4 linked regions of the Homo sapiens genome follow. The protein of the gene in region 4 purifies or fractionates together with the protein of the main gene of each other region. This does not show direct contact. Each region holds a gene or a part of one and is shown on either strand. Other genes may lie near its edges.

The links.
Region 1: the proteins of SLC5A5 (region 4) and NT5E purify together in Homo sapiens (affinity purification with mass spectrometry, with the first as the bait; one large-scale study listed by BioGRID). This does not show direct contact.
Region 2: the proteins of SLC5A5 (region 4) and FAM91A1 purify together in Homo sapiens (affinity purification with mass spectrometry; one large-scale study listed by BioGRID and IntAct). This does not show direct contact.
Region 3: the proteins of SLC5A5 (region 4) and PPP1R3A purify together in Homo sapiens (affinity purification with mass spectrometry, with the first as the bait; one large-scale study listed by BioGRID). This does not show direct contact.

What each region holds. Positions count from the first base shown.
Region 1 is NC_000006.12:85,448,339-85,453,674, reverse strand, and holds the start of NT5E (5'-nucleotidase isoform 1 preproprotein), read right to left. Parts: upstream 3,593-5,336; 5' UTR 3,536-3,592; coding exon 3,197-3,535; intron 1-3,196. UniProt on the Homo sapiens protein: Catalyzes the hydrolysis of nucleotide monophosphates, releasing inorganic phosphate and the corresponding nucleoside, with AMP being the preferred substrate. Shows a preference for ribonucleotide monophosphates over their equivalent deoxyribose forms.
Region 2 is NC_000008.11:123,785,039-123,789,730, reverse strand, and holds part of FAM91A1 (protein FAM91A1), read right to left. Parts: intron 4,651-4,692; coding exon 4,612-4,650; intron 4,103-4,611; coding exon 3,990-4,102; intron 3,237-3,989; coding exon 3,121-3,236; intron 2,471-3,120; coding exon 2,358-2,470; intron 2,068-2,357; coding exon 1,981-2,067; intron 1,531-1,980; coding exon of another isoform or gene 1,498-1,530; exon of another isoform or gene 1,484-1,497; intron 119-1,483; coding exon 1-118. UniProt on the Homo sapiens protein: As component of the WDR11 complex acts together with TBC1D23 to facilitate the golgin-mediated capture of vesicles generated using AP-1.
Region 3 is NC_000007.14:113,880,218-113,884,909, forward strand, and holds part of PPP1R3A (protein phosphatase 1 regulatory subunit 3A), read right to left. Parts: intron 2,104-4,692; coding exon 2,045-2,103; intron 1,947-2,044; coding exon 1,822-1,946; intron 1-1,821. UniProt on the Homo sapiens protein: Seems to act as a glycogen-targeting subunit for PP1. PP1 is essential for cell division, and participates in the regulation of glycogen metabolism, muscle contractility and protein synthesis.
Region 4 is NC_000019.10:17,881,055-17,885,746, forward strand, and holds part of SLC5A5 (sodium/iodide cotransporter), read left to right. Parts: intron 1-905; coding exon 906-1,018; intron 1,019-1,094; coding exon 1,095-1,165; intron 1,166-2,626; coding exon 2,627-2,713; intron 2,714-2,795; coding exon 2,796-2,992; intron 2,993-4,692. UniProt on the Homo sapiens protein: Sodium:iodide symporter that mediates the transport of iodide into the thyroid gland. Can also mediate the transport of chlorate, thiocynate, nitrate and selenocynate.

The sequences.
Region 1 (5,336 bases), on a different chromosome or scaffold from region 4:
GCAGCAGCCAAGCAGAGAAAAGGCACCTTTCTAGGGGACCCTAGAGACCTGCTCAAAGCTACCTTCCCCACAGCCTGTCTTGGTGAGAATCTCACCTCTGGAGGTGGATACCTTCAGTTTTGTGCTGTGGGGAGATTTCATAAGTCTGCTCAATGAGTAACTATAGCAAAAATAGTTTAGGCAATGGTACTTAGGTAAGATGGTAGAGGGCAGGCAGGTGGTAGACTGTGCCAGGCTGTGAGAATCAGATAATCTGATGCACAACCCAAACCTTCCCTTCCTCACAATTCCCCTCCTCCCCACCCAGGGCACATGAAACTCACTTTCAGTGAGCACCAGCAGGGATTATCTCATGTATTCCTCACAAAACCTCTGCAAGATGGGGGTTATCACTCCTGTTTTACAGCTAAGGAACATGAAGCTCAGAGAAAGTAACCAGGCCAAGCGCATACTGTCAGTGCTTCCATGCTGTCTTCCTCGTGCCTCAGGGGACAACAGTCCTTCCACTGAGACAGCTACACTAACTGGAGAGTTTTGCCATCCTCTTCCCAGTTTTCTGCCTAGTAGTGGTTCCAGGGGGTCTCCAGGATTGCCCTGGGTCCTCTACAGCAATCAGGATTACTCCAGTAGGTCTAGAAAGTGTACACCTCCTTGGAAGTTCCTGCTCGAGGGGACTCCTGTGTTTTAGCTGGATTCTAGGAAATTCCTCTTTGTCCTCCATATGCTTCAGTCCTTTTATGTGGCTCCTTTGAACTAGGTCCAGTCTCCAGGAAACTGGAGATGCCCCTCCACAACTGTTTTCCACCCTGATTTGAATCCCCAGTGTCCTAGGAATCAATATGCGGTGAGTGGTTACAGTGGAGGAACGTTTATACCACAACAGCAATAAATTCTCTGAGGGTTAGTATAATATAAACAATTGACAGTGAAACATCTGTGCAATACTGGAGTACAGCAGAGCTTTAGCACATGCTTTAGCACTACAGAACTGGGATTTTATGCACGTCAAATCATGTTTGACACACCCCCAAACTGCACAGAGTAAGTCCTGAGGACACAGCCATCTAACCTTGCCATGTGATCCGCTCCCAATCTTTACCCCCTGCCAACATTACGTAAGTAGCCTATTTTTCCTCAGAACCCAATTCAATTTTCTTGAGCAAAATTTGAAAGAAAGTAATTTCATCCAACAAAAAGGATTCTGAACAAACACAGAAGAGATAGGCTGTAACTTACAGCAGTTTACTCAGGCCTCACCTAGATGTCCTGTCATAAACATTTGATACCATGATTAACACCAGGAGCTCAACTAGACTTACAAGAGGGAAATATTATTAGGGAAAACTAGGAATTCTTCATTCTTATTTTTCCACTAAAAAGGGTTCACACAATTGTGGAGAAAAGAGTGTCACAAAAAGTAAAGTTTACAAAGTCGTGGTTTATATGCAAAATAAAACAAACACATGTAAGTTTATTCTACCCTTCTGGGAGGAAGTGGAGACACAGGGTAGCAACAACTCAATTCTACAAATATTTATTTTGTCATTACTGAGTGCAAAGTATCAGGGAAGTGTAGCTGTGGAATACCAATGCTTAAGAGACCACAGAGTTCTTGAAACCCACGATTCTTCTTCAAATCCAGATGTGTGTGAGCCCCACCTCATCAACTCTGAAGGCTGAAGGATCAGCTGGAATTTCTGCTGCAGGGTGTCCCTGATAAGCTCAAAAGCATCAGAACGGAGGGAGCTTTCTCCCCTTCTCTCATCTCATTAAAATGAGCTTTCTTGTTGTGGGGGGTTGGGGAGGGACCTTTAAAACCAAACAATGGTGCCCTCTTATCATCTTTTCCTGTCCTCCTTTCTCCAAGTTTCCAGAGGGGAAAATAAAACCAAACAAACCCCTCAGCATTGTGCTCTCCTGACCTCTAAGCTCTTCTCATATAAAGTGTACTGTTAGCCTTCTGTATCCCAGCCTAATCACACTTCCCTTTCCCTTCCACACTTGTGGACTTCACAGATTTCTCTGGACGTTTCTCTGGAGATTTCTCAGTTCTTCCTCTTCCAAAGCTCTTTTTTCTTCTCCCAAGTTTCTCCACAGTCTTGCTGAATCCCTTTACTCAAGGCTTTTACACAGGGTTAAATTTGGGTGGTGGTTTTATTTTTTTTTTAACCACCATATATACATCTTGGTTGTACTTATTTATTACTGTGCAACCACCTCTGCTCCCTTTCTAGAATTTAGTGCAATAGAAAAGGCATTACCTTTAACCTAACATTTGGGACTTTGAACTAAACTTTTGCACATGTTTTAAGAGCCCATTATCTCTTAAGTTGGACTCTTCCTAAATCTCTGCCGCCAAACCTACTTTATTGAAATCCTTTGAAACCCAAGTCTTTCCACATTTTGGCTCTCTCTGAAGTTTCTTTCTTTCTTTCTCTTTCTTTCTTTCTTTCCTTTTCTTAACCCTATATTATAGTGTCTGGTAATAACAACATATATAGACACCACACTATGTGTCTGGTAATAATATAGAGACCACACTATGTGCACTATGTACAATTATAATCCTTATTTTTATACAGGATAGAACTGAGGCAAGAAAGAGTAAATAACTTGCTCAAGGTCACATAGAAGGTAATTGAACAGAGAATCTACCCCAAAGCTGTGAGCTTAATTACTCTCAAGCTCCGGGGTCAAAGAGATCTGGTGTCCATTCTTATCACGTCTCCCTTTTTGCGGGGATGGTGCCTGTTAATTTATTCAGCTTCTTCGACGCGGTTTCCCTTTCAATAAGATTGAGATAAAGCATTTTTCGAAAGATCTAGATTGAGATAAAGCATTCTTTGAAAGATCTAGCAGTAAATGAGAGCTGCGTGAGGGATCCGATTCAGTCCCTAGCTCTGGATAACTGTCAGTGCTTCTACGCACCCCACCTTAAGCCCCTCGCAGGCAGGACTGGGTCCTGCTCCTCTAAATACTCCCATCTCATAGTGGGGGCGCAATAACGTCCGTTTAAGACGAATCGTCCAAGGGACTTCTATGCATCCAGCTGGCACACTGGCCGGAGTCTCACTTTATCCCCACATCTCTCCGCGCCCTGGACCTAGGCTTGCCACACTCTGCCATCCGCTGCTTTTCCAGCCCGGCTCCTCTCTCAGTCCGGGACTACTATCCCGGGCGCGGGCTCGGGTCTTACCATGGCATCGTAGCGCAGGGCGTTCATGAAGTGCGCCACCTCGGCGCCCTTGTACACGGTGAACCAGATAGTGCCCTGGTACTGGTCGCCGGCGTCCAGCAGCAGCACGTTGGGTTCGGCGCGGCGGATCTGCTGAACCTTGGTGAAGAGCCGAGCCACGCCACCCATGCAGCGGCTGGCGTTGACGCACTTGCTGGAGTCCTCGCTGGTCTGCTCCAGCCGGCTGTGCACGTCGTTGGTGTGCAAAATCGTAAGCTCCCAGGCGCCAGCCGCAGGCCACAGCACCGCGCCCAGGGCGAGGAGTAGCGTCGCGGGCGCCCGCGCGGCTCGGGGACACATAGCTGTGGCGCGTGAACTGGGTGCGAAAGCGGGCGAGCCGGGCGAGTGCCGGCGAGTAGGGGCGAGCAGCTAGGGCCGGGGCTCGGTGCCCCGGCTGGAGGGGCGGGGCCCGGGTCAAGGCCGGGGCGGGTCCTTCTTCAGCCTGGAGGCCGGCTTGGCGGCCAGGCGCAAGTTCGCGACGTCACCCGATCCGACCCTGGTACCCGGAGCGGCCCTGGCGCGGCTGTCGGCTGGCACCAGCTCCCTGCAGGAAGAGTGGAGAGGTTGTTCCCGGCGGGGAGCGGGTACCGGCCGCATCCCGGCCGGACCAGGGAGCCTGGGCGCCGGCAGTTCGGCTGCTGGTGCGCCGCTCTTTCGGGGGCGCGAGGAAGGAATTGGAGGGGTCCGCCCCGCGCCTGGGTCCTCTCTGAGTCTCGCCTCATTCGAGGCACGGGTTTTTCTACAAAAGGAATGTATGGTTTGTGGTTGCGCTAGCTCATCACTTCAAAGAACCAAAGAAGGAAAAGAGAGGGGGCGGGAAGAAAGATGAGCGAGCTGAGGGGCAGAGAGGAGGAGTAAAGAGAGGCCGGGCAGAGGAGCTCCTTGCAGTTTCGGGCTGTGAGAGCCGAAGCTCACTGAGATGTGACGCTTCCTGTTGGGTTGAGAACGCACGAAGTCTACGATGCTTAGACAAAAAAATCTCAGAAACTAAGAAATCATTCGAATCCAGTTCCTTGTTTATTCACAATTAAAACCTTAGTGATAAAACAGAGGCGACGCGCGGACAGCTCCTGGAAGCAGAAACACGATTGGGGTAAAATCCGGCAGCTATCAGGACGGGAAGGGATGCTGCCCTTCTTTGCTTTTCTGGTCTTATTTTATTTTATTTTATTTTTATTTTGTCGCGTGTGCTTTCGGTGTCGCAGTGAAGTCATAGCCAAATACAATGTTAGGAAGATTTTCCTCTATGTTTTCTCCTAAGAGTTTTATAATTTAAACTCTTAGACCTTTAATCCATTTTGAGTTAATTTTCATATGTGGTATGAGTCCACATTTACTCTTTTTCATGTGGATATCCAGTTTTCTTAGTACCATTTGTTGAAAAGACATTCTGTGCCCGTTTTTAAGACATTGACCTGAGGTTCGGAGATTGTAAATCATTTGCCAAGAAAGGCCATGCAGTTTGGGAGCAGCAGTGCCTGGGGCTACAGAAGACCCTTGCTTCTGGGACACCCTCTAATGTCATGCTTTGCAAGGTTTTGCTCTGTCCCTCTTTGAGCACCTGCTAGAAGCAGGTAAAAGAACTGGTAGTTTTGCTGTTTTAACTTAAAAAAAGAATGATTTTAGACTTACAGAAAAGTTGCAAAGGTAATAAAGGGAGTTCCCACATACCCATCACCCATATTGCCTTATGTTAACAGCTTATATAACCAATGAAACTAAAAACTTAACAGTGATACGAAACTATTAACTGTGTTACTGATTTTATTTTAATTTCACCAACTGTTCCACTAATGTCCGTTTTCTATTCCAGGACCCAATTCAGGATACCATATTGCAGTTAGTTTTCCTGTGTTCTTAGCCTCCTCTAATCTGTGACAGTTTCTCAGTCAGTTGTCTTCAAAAACCTTGACACTTTTGAACAGTACTGGTTTCTGTATACTATCCCTCAGTTTGGGTTTGTCTGATGTTTTCTCATGATTGGACTGAAGCTGTGGATGTTTAGGAAGAATGCTACAGAGATTATGTGCCTTTCTCATTGCCTGGTATCTGTGGGTACACGGTATCAACATGACCTATCACTGATCACTGGGGAACTGAT
Region 2 (4,692 bases), on a different chromosome or scaffold from region 4:
CTGGCTGTGCAGTTTGCGCAACTAGATCTTTGTTATGACGCAGAAACAGTATTGTGTTTCTCAGAGTAAGTGCATGATCAAAATATCTCTGTGCTTCTCCTTCACCAGTGCTCTGAACCTAAACCAAGAGAAAATAGATTTTGCAACAAAAATACCACTTTTATGCCATTCACTCTAATAATCATATAATAGAGATATAAGACATTATTCAAAAGTAGTAAATCAAAAATTTGCCCAGGCAATACCGAAACAAGTTATTAACCTCAGTCTTGGTTGAGTTCCCAATTTTACTACATCTATGGAGATAGAAATTACTTCAACTAAGACTAACAATTTTAGCAATTGAATAATGCTAAGTTATAGCATTATATGTTACATGTTCCAAATGATTCAAATAGAGTGCTTAAACAACTCTAAAACCCGTATTCTGCTCCATCTAGGAAAGTACTCCAAGGTCACCAGTTTTACCTATAATTCTCATAACTTTGTTCACAATTCTGTATTACCAGTTACAAGAGACACTGGAGTCTGTGATTCAACATAGCTGTTCACCATTGCTGAACACACAGCTTAAATTCACTCAACAAAGATTTACTTAGTGCCTCCTATGGACTATGACCTCCCTAGGAGATAAGGATAGAGTAATGGACAAAACCCCTGCCTTCACTGGCCTTATAGTTTAATGTATGCTCTTCTGAATAAGTCTGAATAAGTCACCTTTTAATAAGTAGAGACATATATCCCAGAAACAACACAGAAAATGGAATGATAGGTCTACCAACGGGAAAATAACTAAATCAGATTTGCATACATTTAAGAAATCAATCTTAAGATCAAACTACTTAAAAAATAGCTAAGAATCCACTTTAAAAACTAAGCCTCAGACTGAAAGGCTTTCCCAAGAATGACTTTGTGATGAAAAAGAACATAGATTTATGAGTAAAAGAGCAGAAGTCAACTTGCAATTTGCTACATTTGATAAAAGACTAGCTGAGGTGAAAAAAAGATAAAAATCAGAAAACCAGAACTTGAAATGTGCAGTAACATAGTAAGAAATTTATTAGTAGAAGATAATATACAATAAGAAATGGGGTTAACAAATAAAGAAGCATGAAGAAATAAATGGCAGTATAAAGGTAAAAGTAAAAGAGACCAATTAATAGCAAAGGATTATCTCACACATATTTCTGCACTAATAAAAGTAAAAATCCTATGGAGTAGGAGCAGTGAAAAATGTTACAGTCTTTTTTTTTTAAGATATAAAGGAGTTGCAGAATCACCACAAATTCTCTAAACAGTGCATTGAAAATACAAAGTTCATCATAAAGCACAAAAGGCACGAAAAGTATTAGTCAAGGAACAGATTAGGCACACAAACTATTTGAATACAAAGAGGCCAGAATAAAATATCCGAAGAATGAAAAACACCAATAAAGGGCAATCAGATTTATTTAGAGCTAAGGAAAACTAGGGCTGTACTCACGGGGAAAAAGGTGGTTAAGAGCAAATATGGCTGAAGTCTTCAAGATGCTAAAAGGGATAGTGAGAGCGGACATAAATATGATACCCAGGGATATTGTTCCAGATTCAAGGTAAATGGAACAAAAACTTCAAATCAAACTGCTTAAGAGGTGATCTTAGAGAGTCATACCAGAAAAAAAATTGAAAGGCTATTTTAGCAAAAATTCAACTTAAAACATTACAGACTAAAATTTCTATACCCCATTTCTTCATTATCTCAAATTATGTTAAGAATTAGATGAGGTAGACATATCACTTTAAAAATCACAAAATCAATTCACCCACTCAATATGTTTAAGTCTAAATGACTGTAAGAGTACTAATTTGGGGAATGAGGTAGGAACGAGCAAGAATACACTGAAAGCCCATCCAAATCAACAGACTGTATAATTGGCATTCTGTCAAGCAAGGACAGATTCCAAATGCCCTAACATCCCCTTACATGCAATCTACATTTACCTTTTCTAGTTCTATAAGAAAGCTGTCCAGAGACTCATCTGAGAGTTTGCCTACTTCAAACATTGTGACTGCATGACTTTTCAAGTTCTGAAAAAAAGAAACAAAATATTAAAGTTCTACTTCTCCCTTTTTATGCTAAGCATACTATCAAATATTTATATTATCCTTTCAAATATATTTAAACTTAAGGATTGGGGGGTGAGGGGCTAATTCTTCCAATTACAAAAGGACCTTCCCTGAAAGTTATTATACTCCTCTAAGTCAGTTGTGCTTCGGGAATAAATGTAGTACTTTAAAAAAGATATAAAAGCATTAAATTATTTTATATCTAGTATTTATTTTAAACACCTTCATATTTAAACAAGAATTGGGCTTACTGGTGAAAGATTTCCCATCATTAAGAAGGCAGTAAGAGTGGAGTCAAACAGGAATGCGATGCGCTTCGTGTGTCCTGTAGACAGACTCAGGCTGCTTACACTGGCTGTGTCAGCTGAAAAACACCATAATTTAAAATCAAGTAAATGGAAATTATTCTTTGCTTACCATTTGGAGTGAAAGTATTTCATTTCAGCTTTATTTGATAACCAGAAAGTACATAATTTTAAAAAGGCACTATTATAGCCATAAGAAGTTCCAGCCATACCTATTTTGAAGCGCAAAGAATATTAAAAAGCATTTAACCCTAGGCCTTGTCCACTATGCTGTGTTTCCCTTTGGGCTTAGCCTCACTATTCTCTCGGGCTGAAATGGCTTTCCTTCCCTGACCAGCTGGCAGGCTCTTCTTCATTCTTAGCTCAAATAACATCTTCTCTGTGAAGGCTTCCCAAACCTCTCTAGCCAATTAAGGGTCTCTTCCTCTTTGCACCCTACAAGCATTATAATTGGTGCCCGTGTTGTTGTAATTTGTTTGGTCACATTCCCTTCTCTCTCCTTAGACTTAATTCTTAGAAGAAAGGTACCATATTCTTGTCAGTTTTATATACCTAGGACTTAGCACAGTGCCCAAAATATAGTAAAACACTCAAAGACTGCGTATTGAATAAAATCTAAACTAAAATTAGAAGGTAACTGTAAGAGTGTATGTTTGGACATGTGCCGTACCTACAGACAGACTCTATGTTAAACTGAGTTACTGCTAACCTGGATCTTCTTGACTATTTGTATCAGTGTCAGTTGCCGATGAAGCTTCTTGTACAGGACTCCTACTTTCCCCTCCATCCCATGACAAGAGCATCTTCTGTGGATCTAAGGTACTCCTATTAATGAAGAATGCATTTGCTTTTTAAAAATCATATAAATGACCTTACATTAAAATATCTACTGAAGTTAAGACTTAAATTATGAACAATCCATCAAAATTCAGTCTTATATTCAAGCCCAAAATTAAGTCGCAGCCCAAAAATGCTCTGCCTACATACAACAAGGGTTCTTAACTAAGATCCACGGATAGGCTTCAGAAAATTCAAGAACCCTTCAAGATTTTATGTAAAATATTTATTTGCTTTTTTTCTGGGAAAAGCCTTCTTAGTTTTCATTATATTCCAAAAAAGATCTGTAACACACACACAAGATTAAAAATCACTAATATAAAGGGCTCACCTCAACTGACAGGTTGAATAAATAAAATTTCTGGGCCAGGTGCAGTGGCTCACACCTGCAATCCCAACACTTTGGAAGGCCAAGGTGGGTGGATCAGTTGGGGCCAGGAGTTCGACACCAGCCTGGCTAACATGGTGAAACCCCACCTCTAACAGAAACACAAAAAATTAGCTGGGCATGGTGGTGCACACCTATAGTCCCCACTACTCAGGAGGCTGAGGCATGAAAATCGCTTGAAACGGGGAGGTGGAGGTTGCAGTGAGCCGAGATCGCGCCACCGCACTCCAGCCTGGATGACAGAGAGAGACTTTGTCTCAATAAATAAATAAATAAATAAATTTATGTATGTAAAATTAAATGTCTTTTCAAAAGGAAACTCTAATAGCTCATACTGAATAAATTTAAGTTACTTTAATCTGTTTACGGATGGAACATTCTTCCATGATGAATGAAGTTGATCCAAATTAATTACTTGTCCCTTCTTATGGGCAAAGCCCAATCGGCAATACATTGAAACAGCATTCTGAAAGGAATATAAAGGAAACTAATTACCATTTAAAATAAACTAGACATCACAATATTTGTAGAGAAAAAATAGTGTAATAGACTAATAGTGATTCTCAAACATTTTCATCCCGTAACCAGAAACTATTTTCAGTAGACCTGCTCCTCCCTTGAAGTCTTCATAAATGTATAGGAGGGAATGTTTCCAACTCTCTGGCCTTGCCCTCCCTACATCTACCCCTAATGAAGCAGGAGTTGTTGCTTTAACGGACCTCACTACAAGATACTGCTTGGGCTGCTTCTTGCATGAGTGCTCTCTTTTCAGTCCATGTGTTTGAATCCCAATTTAGGGCCCCTTTTCCTGCTCTTTCCTGTCTTTGCAAGTGCCCCTTTACTGTGCACGTTCTCTCAGACAGCTAACAACAATCTCAATGTCTTCGTTTCTCAGTAGCTTATCAAGATAAAAATCTACTAGTAAAATCCACTCAGTTATCACATCACCAGTAAATGAGTATAAAAATAACATACCTTAACCAGGGATAAGTCAATCTCAAGGACATTTGCAAGCTAGAAGATAAAATTAAAATTTATTTTTACATTCTTAGAATT
Region 3 (4,692 bases), on a different chromosome or scaffold from region 4:
TATCTGGTAGATTTCTTTGACTGATTTCATTTGTGGATTTCATATAAACTCTGGAAGCCAGATGTTTTGGGGAAATCCTTGCAGGCTATGACTGGGGAACGAGATTAGTAAGAAAGGGGGCCCAAATTTATCACTCTCCTTCCCAGCTTCCAACTATCACATTGTATTATTCAACTGTTCTTGCTTGTCATTGCACTTTCTCCTCACTTAGACTATACACATTGATAGCTCCATGCTAATCAATTAGACAGCAGCTTCCTGGGTGCCCCTTGCTGCATTTACACTTGCTGTAGGTGCCCCCATTACAGTTTCTCTTATTAATATGTTTTCTGCAAAGCCTCTGCAAACTATTAATAGCAAAACGTCACTCAAAGAAAAGTGAGGGAGTTAATGTCTCTGCAAATTCTGTTTTAATGACCCTCTGCCAACTGGTACTCAAATGTATTTGAGCTCTTCAGTGATGCCAACTGTCAGGATTTAACAGTGAGATGCCTGTGTTTTTTTTTTTTTCTCCTCATAACTGACATTTGCATGATCTCAATAATTATATGCAAATCTTACGTTTTCCCCTTCTTCTCACATAAGGCTCATGTTACTTGTCAACTGCACAGCTGTCTTGTAAGCCAATGCCTGTGGGTTCCACAGATTTGGTTGTATTTCCATCTATTATAGAGCTTCATTGTTTTATGCATTAACGTCAGCATGGAGCAAATTAGCATCTAAATTACAGCTCCCTGTTCATTTATTGGATGTACAATCTCAGTAACTTCTAAACAAACTTTTATATTTGAGCCTGCTCATCGTAATGAGATGTATTGGTGAAGTATGTGATTTTTCAGGGCCCTTTCATTATATTCTGTGGTTTGAAAAAAATGGCCATGTTAACTTTCAGCTGGTGAGAATTCTCACAATGGGTGACAACTTTGTAGTTTCTTAAAGTTGGAGCAAAGTAAATTGCATACTTTAGTGATGCAGCTCCGCGATCACTATAGAAAAGGTGGAATATGTGGGGAAATAGATGAGCTCTATTTCTTTCCTGTTTCAGCACTGACACTTGAAGAGACAAATGTCATTTTAATCTTAGATGATTATGAATCCATGTATTCCAATGATATGAGCTCCATCCAAATACAGTAAAGGATAAATTGCATTATGTGACTCATTTACTCCTATTTCTTCCTTTGTGATAAAAGTGCTGTATAAACCATCCCCCCAAAAAATTCCAAATAGATTGAATGCTCACCAAGTATGAAATTTATAACAAATTTAATACTAAGTTGTATAGTACTGAATTTGTTTCCTGTTTTAAAATTATGGCACAGGCTATTTTCTTTTTACTTGGTAATTTAATACTCTACAATGATATAGAACTTGGAGATTCTCACAAGGATGGAATTTTTTAAAAAATGCTGTTACATGTGAGAATCATAGACTTCTAGAGTAGGACAGGACACTAACAATCCTCTAGTCCAGCCCTCTCATTTTATAGACGAGTTTATGCTAAGTATACACTTGTCACAAAGATTAGAAATGCACATCAGGATAGTGCTACCTCTCCTGTAATTCCTGCAAACTATTACTCAGAGCCACTGGTAAAGAGATAAGAAATGAATGTCATTAATTTACCACTGCAGAGACCAGAAGCAACATACAGAAATCAAAGTGCCTTGTTGATCAAGCTAGAGACGCAAGGACAGAATAGGCTGTGCTTTCACATTTGCAAATTATATTAGTTGAAGCTATTGAAAGGCAGGCATTGCAGCATCTTTGAAGCAGAAATGGATTCATCTTCTCTAATACCGTGGCAACCAGAACACTTACCATCAACTCTAATTCTTTTTCATTATGTTCATCATGTTCCCTGTTTACATCTTTTACATTTCGATTACTGGCTTCCAAATCTTCCTTGTCCTCATGAGAACAAATGATTGTTGGGATATAGGTATCTGAAAAGTTAATATAATTGTGCCTATGTAAGATTGTTTTAATTGTAGACTTTCACAAAAGAGACAAATTTGGTTTTAAAATTAATGAAGAATATTACCTGTATTCTTTGGATTCTCAAAGTTATTTTCTTCTGATGTTACTGATGATTCTTCTTTACTGTTAAATTTAAAAGAAAATGTTATATGTTTTTCTGGGACTGCATCTTCTAAGTATTTTTACACAGGGGGAAATTCAATCAGTAACAAGCCAAATAAACATTATATAGCCTTTCTTATTTTCCTATATTACTTGGGATGTTTTGAAATAAAAATGATCTTTTTGGAATGATGCAATAGTAAGTATTGGTTGTAGAAAAATTTAAAAGTAATTCAAACAATGCCATATTTCTAAACAGAAACACACTCTATTTCTTAATATTTAAGAAAATATATTAAAACTTATATAACCAAAGTAAAAACATATGTAAATGTAGATTATTCTATCTTCAATGAATTTCATCTTTTCAAGTGAGAATGTTTTTCTCATGGCTTAATGATAAAATTTTATGAACTGACAGTCTATTTATGGTCATGGAAATTGCTAACATTTCAATTAATTTTTTGTGTTCCATTTTACTCAAAATTCTTCCAGTTGGACTAACATTAACTCTCTCTCCAGAAAAGCAAAAAAACACAAAAAGTAAAAGTAAGAAAGAAACAAGCTAACTAAAAAACTGAAAGGCAGCTAAATTTATACTCAGTTAAAAGACTTTATATATGTATTGCCACAGGCCAATTTTAAAAGCAAGACTTTGGATCATTTATATGCAAGCATATACTTTCCTTCTTTAAAATGATTTGGGTTACATTTCCTTTTCTAGCATACCCTGCATACTGATTGTAAAAGACAAATACCTTTTTCCTTCAAATGTAATCTATTTGTAGTTGTATTTGTGAAGTCATTAGAATTTAGATTTGTCCATGAAACTCAGGAGGAAAAATGTTGGTAAAAAAAGCTCACTTTGTGTATAGTTATGTCACAAGTCAATTATAAGAAATATTTGGCGCAGTATACACATTTTCTTATACTCTCTCAACTGAATTTCCTTATGGTGCCTATTCTCAAGGACTTTTCTGCAACAAAAGAAATCTGGAAAGTTGGCAATGGCTGATAAATTTGTGTAACAAGAGTCTAGACTTCATTGCATGAGCAATTCTGATCCAAATCCCAGGAAGGCCAATTTTATATTCACAAATCATGAGAAATTGAAAATTCTTCCATCCTGACCATGCAAGAAGATAATTCAGTTTTATATATTTTTATGATTCATAATTTTAACTTTACTAAAAACATTTGGTATTTTTAGTGGGCCCACATATAGAAAATAATGCTTCTATATAAATATAATTTTATTAGAAAAATATACTGCTTGCATAATTGATACTGAATTTATGAATCCATATTGCTTAATGAGGTCAAAAATTATGCCAAGGTTTATTTTTACGAAATCCAACTGCAGGCTGACACACCTTCCCTTCTCCATGTACATGTTTATGTGCTTAAAAATATATAAACCATTAAACAGCATTTATTTATTCCTGCTTCGTCTCTATTCCCATACAATACTGAAAGTATTATTTGTAGAAGAAAAATAGTCAAAGATTTTTGTTCTTATCTAATCAAAATGCTACCAATCACTTCTCTAATTCAATTCTCTAATATAATTTAATTCTTAAAAAATGATCGAGTCAAAAGGACAGGAGCCTGCTTTAACTTATTTGGGGATAAAATAAGTATTCAACTATGTATTCTTATGTTAGTGTCTTAAAATGTAAATATAGAAATATAGGAGAAAAACTTCAAATTCAGGGACAAGTACAAATAAAAGTAGAAATAAATGAAATTTAAATATATGAAATATCTATAAACAAAAACAGAAAATACGTAAGATTTCTATGGGCAAAGTAATAAAATTATATCAAAGAATGTCAACAATCCTAAAAAGGTTGATAAACATACCATGTTCATAGATAGAAAATATTATGAAGATGTCAATTCTCTCACAAATTGATCTACAAATTCAATACTAATCAAAACACCAAAACATTTTTTATAGAATTTGAAAATATTATTCCAAACAGAAAAATAAAGGGCAAATGATGGCTAAAATGTTTCTGAGAAATAGCAGGGAGGAGGAACTTTTTTTATCAGATTAAGTATTTTTAATGAAGATTTATTTATTAAGATAGTGTTATATTGGTACAGAGTCAGGCAAACTAATAAGACAAGATTGAGAGCTTAGAACTTTGGTATATGACAAATGGTATATCCAGAACATTGGTATATGACTAACATAGCATGTCAGACAATAGGAAATATGGTACTTTTCAGTAAGTTGAGAGAGAGAAAATGGCTACCAATTGGATTTAGATCTTAAATGTCAAAAACCTTGAAATTCTTAGTAGAAAATATATGTGAATATCTTCTGGGCCTAAGAGTAGGAAATATTTTCTTAAGAAAAAAGAAAAAAAAGATTTAAAAAATTGGTCAGTTTAACTGTAGTAAAATTTAAAATGTTTATTAAGAGACTATGCAGTAAAAATAGAAGTTACAAAGTGGGAGAAGATGCTTTCATTACACAAAATCAACACAAATAAGCATCAAGAATACATAATGAACTCCTACAAATCAACAAGAAAGTACAAACAATTCATTGTGTGTAGGGGGGCAAGGGTGCAGACATTTCAGAGAAGAGAAAACACATAG
Region 4 (4,692 bases):
CATCAGTCCCAGTTCCTGCTTGATCCCTAGAAGACAGCTCAGGTAGGCGCTGGCAGAGAGCATGCCCTGGGCACAGGGACCCCAACTGCAAGGGTTTACCTTCTTATCACCTGTCAGGGCCACGCCTGACTCTCCTCTCTTCTTCTTCCTTCTTTCCTTCCTTCCTCCCCAGACAAATATTTGTTGAACATCTACTATGTGGCAGGTACTGTTTTTTTTTGTTTTTTTTCCGGATGGAGTCTTGCTCTGTCACCCAGGCTGGAGTGCAGTGGTGCCATCTCGGCTCACTGCAACCTCCACCTCCTGGGTTCAAGCAATTCTCCTGCCTCAGCCTCCCAAGTAGCTGGGATTACAGGTCCACGCCACCACAGCCGGCTAATTTTTGTATTTTTAGTAGAGACGGGGTTTCGCCATGTTGGCCAGGCTGGTCTTGAACTCCTGACCTCAGGTGATCTGCATGCTTTGGCCTCGCAAAGTGCTGAGATTGCAGGCATGAGCCAACGTGCTCAGCCCAGGTACTGTTGTTCTAAACCCTGGGGCACAGCCATGACCAAGCAGTCCCCTGCTTCTGCCTTCCAAGGCCACACACTCAGGTGGTTTCCACTCTTCCGGGACTTCTGGTCACATGCCCTCACTGTCCCTTTTGCAAATCTCCCACATGTGACTGCAGTCCCTCTGGAACCAGAACCCACCTGTCTGTCCCACCTGCCCTTGGTCACAGGTGTCCTTGCTCCTGTAGGGATGTCTCAGGTCTTCGGGGAGGGGAGGGGCAAATATCTCCTTCACCTTTGCAGGACTGGGTTACCCCCACCGTTGCCCTCAGGCTGGGTGAGGTCTGGCAGGCCAGATGGTGTGGACGGTCTCTCCATATGGCCTGAGGACCCCCCGCTGCCTTCCTCACACAGCACAGCATCCACCAGCATCAATGCTATGGCTGCAGTCACTGTAGAAGACCTCATCAAACCTCGGCTGCGGAGCCTGGCACCCAGGAAACTCGTGATTATCTCCAAGGGGCTCTGTGAGTTTCAGGGAGACCTGGGTGGGAGGCCAGGGCAGTCCCTCCCCGTTGACCGTGCCATCCTCATCCACTACAGCACTCATCTACGGATCGGCCTGTCTCACCGTGGCAGCCCTGTCCTCACTGCTCGGAGGAGGTGTCCTTCAGGTGAGACCCCACCTGCCCCCTGCCCTGGTCTCCTGAGAGGTGGGGGCACCTTTCCCTCTTTCCCATTAAACTGAGGCTCAGAGAGGTCACATGTGTCAGTGGCAGAACTCACTTCTATGTTTTTTTTTTTTTTGAGATGGGGTCTCACTGTGTTGTCCCAGGTTGGTGAGCAGAGGCCCGATCATAGCTCACTGCAACCTCCAGCTCCTGGGTTCAAGCCATCCTTCCACCTCAATCTCCCAAGTAGCTGGAGTTACAGGTGTGTGCCACCATGCCTGGCTAATTTTTTTCTTTTTTCTTTTTTTTTTTTTTTTGAGGTGGAGTGTCACTCTGTTGCCCAGGCTGGAGTGCAGTGGCATGATCTCAGCTCGCTGCAACCTCCACCCCCTGGGTTCAAGGAATTCTGCCTCAGCCTCCAGAGTAGCTGGGATTACAGGTGCATGCCACCATGCCCGTCTAATATTTTTGTATTTTTTTTTCTTGAGACGGAGTCTCGCTCTGTTGCCCAGGCTGGAGTGCAGTGGCACCATCTTGGCTCACTGCAAGCTCAGCCTCCTGGGTTCACGCCATTCTCCTGCCTCAGCCTCCCGAGTAGCTGGGACTACAAGCGCCCGCCACCACGCCTGACTAATTTTTTGTATTTTTAGTAGAGATGGGGTTTCACCGTGTTAGCCAGGATGGTCTCGATCTCCTGACCTCGTGATCCGCCCTCCTCGGCCTCCCAAAGTGCTGGGATTACAGGCGTGAGCCACCGCGCCCAGCTTATATTTTTGTATTTTTATTAGAGATGGGACTTCACCATGTTGGCCAGTCTGGTCTCGAACTCCTGACCTCAAGTGATCCACCCGCCTCTGCCTCCCAAAGTGTTGGGATTACAGGTGTGAGCCACCACGCCTGGCCTGGCTAATTTTAAAACTTGTTTTTAGAGACAGGGTCTCGCTTCGTGCCTAGGCTTGTCTTGAACTCCTGGCCTCAAGCAACCACCCGCCTCAGCCTTCCAAGTCGCTGAGATTAAGAACTAAGTTCTATTTGATGCCAGAGGCCATCAGGGGACTTTTTTGCAGCTGGCTGGCTTGGGGTGGGGGAATTGGGAAGGGGGAGGTGGCGACAGAAAGGGCCTCCCTATGGAGGTTGCAGTGAGCCAAGATCGCGCCACTGCACTCCAACCTGGACAGCAAAGTGAGACTCTGTCTAAAAAAAAAAAAGAAGAAGAAAGGGTCTCCCTGGCTTGAGGGTGGGACTGCCACCCCCAAGAGATAATCAGTGTCTTTGCCTCCAACCCAAGGGAGATAGGCAGGAACAAGGGGGGGGGGTCCTCTCCCCTTTAGGGAAACTGAGACACAGAGGAGTCCTTGAGACCCACATTGGAGTTCCTGAGGTCTCGCTTTCCCAGCGGGTAAACTGAGGCCCAGAGCGGTGGGAGGGCTCCGCCCTCAGCCCCACTTCCACCTACTCTCCCAGGGCTCCTTCACCGTCATGGGAGTCATCAGCGGCCCCCTGCTGGGAGCCTTCATCTTGGGAATGTTCCTGCCGGCCTGCAACACACCGGTGAGTGGGGGCGGGGCAAGGGGCGGGGAGGGGCGGGGCCGGACAGGCCCCTCCCCTTCCCTGACGCCGGCTCTGCCCCCAGGGCGTCCTCGCGGGACTAGGCGCGGGCTTGGCGCTGTCGCTGTGGGTGGCCTTGGGCGCCACGCTGTACCCACCCAGCGAGCAGACCATGAGGGTCCTGCCATCGTCGGCTGCCCGCTGCGTGGCTCTCTCAGTCAACGCCTCTGGCCTCCTGGACCCGGCTCTCCTCCCTGCTAACGACTCCAGCAGGGCCCCCAGGTGAGCAGACTTGAGGGTAGGGGGGTACCCGAGCCCTGGATGGTGTGATCTTGAAGGGAAACTTACTTGCCCTGCACTCTGTGTAAGAAGCCTGATTAGTAAAATGCATTCCTGGGGGAGGGAACGGTAGGTGCAAAGGCCCTGAGGCCACAATCGGGTTAGTCCCAGTCCAACTGCACTGAGGTTAGGGTGCATTTAATGGGAGGAGAGATGGGTGGGAGATATGGTGCAGCCAGAGGAAGCTAGTACTTTTTTTGTTTTGTTTTTCTGAGACAGAGCCTCGCTCTGTGGTCCAGGCTGGAATGCAGGGGTGCAATCTCAGCTTACTGCAGCTTCAACCTCTCAGGCTCAAGCAATCCTCCCAGCTTGAGGGAGGCCCAGAATTTGGTTTGGTTCTATTTTTTATTGAGATAAATTAGCCATTTAAAAGTGGCATTTAGGCCAGGCAGGCACAGTGGCTCACACCTGTAATCCCAGCACTTTGGGAGGCTGAGGCAGGTGGATCACCTGAGGTCAGGAGTTCAAGACCAGCTTGATCAACATGGGGAAACCCCCGTCTCTACTAAAAATACAAAACTTAGCCAAGCGTGGTGGCAGGTGCCTGTAATCCCAGCTACTCGGGAGGCTGAGACAGGAGAATCGCTTGAACCCAGGAGGTGGAGGTTGCAGTGAGCTGAGATCGCACCACTGTATTCCAGCCTGGGCAACAAAAATGAAACTCCAACTCAAATAAATAAATTAAAGTGGCATTTAGTATATTTGTGCAACCATCACCACTATCTAAGTCAAGAACGTTTCCTCTTTTTTTTTTCTAATTTTGTATTTTTAGTACAGATGGGGTTTCACCATGTTGGCCAGGCTGATCTTGAACTCCTGACCTCAGGTGATCCGCCCACCTCAGCCTCCCAAAATGCTGGGATTACAGGTGTGAGCCACTGTGCCTGGCCCCAAAAACATTTTCTATTTTTTTTTTTTTTTGGAGCAGGGTCTTGCTCTGTTGCCCAGGCTGGAGTCCAGTGGCACGATCATAGCTCACTGCTGCCTCAACCTCCTGGGCTCAAGGAATCTTCCTACCTCAGCCCCCCTAGTTGCTGGGACCACAGGTGCACACCATCATGTCCTGCTTGTTTTTATTTTTATTTTTTGTAGAGACAGGGTCTGGCTATGTTGCCCAGGCTGGTCTGGAATTCCTGGGCTCAAGCGATCTGCCCACCTCAGCCTTGCAAAGTGCCAGGATGACAGGTGTGGGCACCCAGCCAACCAAGAACATTTTCTGTTTTGTTTATTTATTTATTTATTTATTTTGGTTTTTTGGGTGGGTTTTTTTGCTTTTTGTTTATTTGATTTTTTGGAGACAGGGTCTCACTCTAACACCCAGGCTGGAGTGCAATGGCACAATCACAGCTCACTGCACCATTGACCTCCAGACTCCGATGATCCTCCTGCCTCAGCCTCCCAAGTAGCTGGGACTATAGGCATGTATCACCATGCTGGGCTAAATTTTTTGTATTTTTTATAGAGACGAGTTTTTGCCATGTTGCCCAGGCTGGTCTCAAAGTATTGGGCTCAAGTGATCTGCCTGCCTCTGACTCCCAAAGTGCTGGGATTACAGGTGTGAGGCACTGTTCCTGGTCATAAGAACATTTTTATCACCCCAGAAAGAAGCCCTGTCCCCATCAGCAGTCACTTCCCACTTCCCC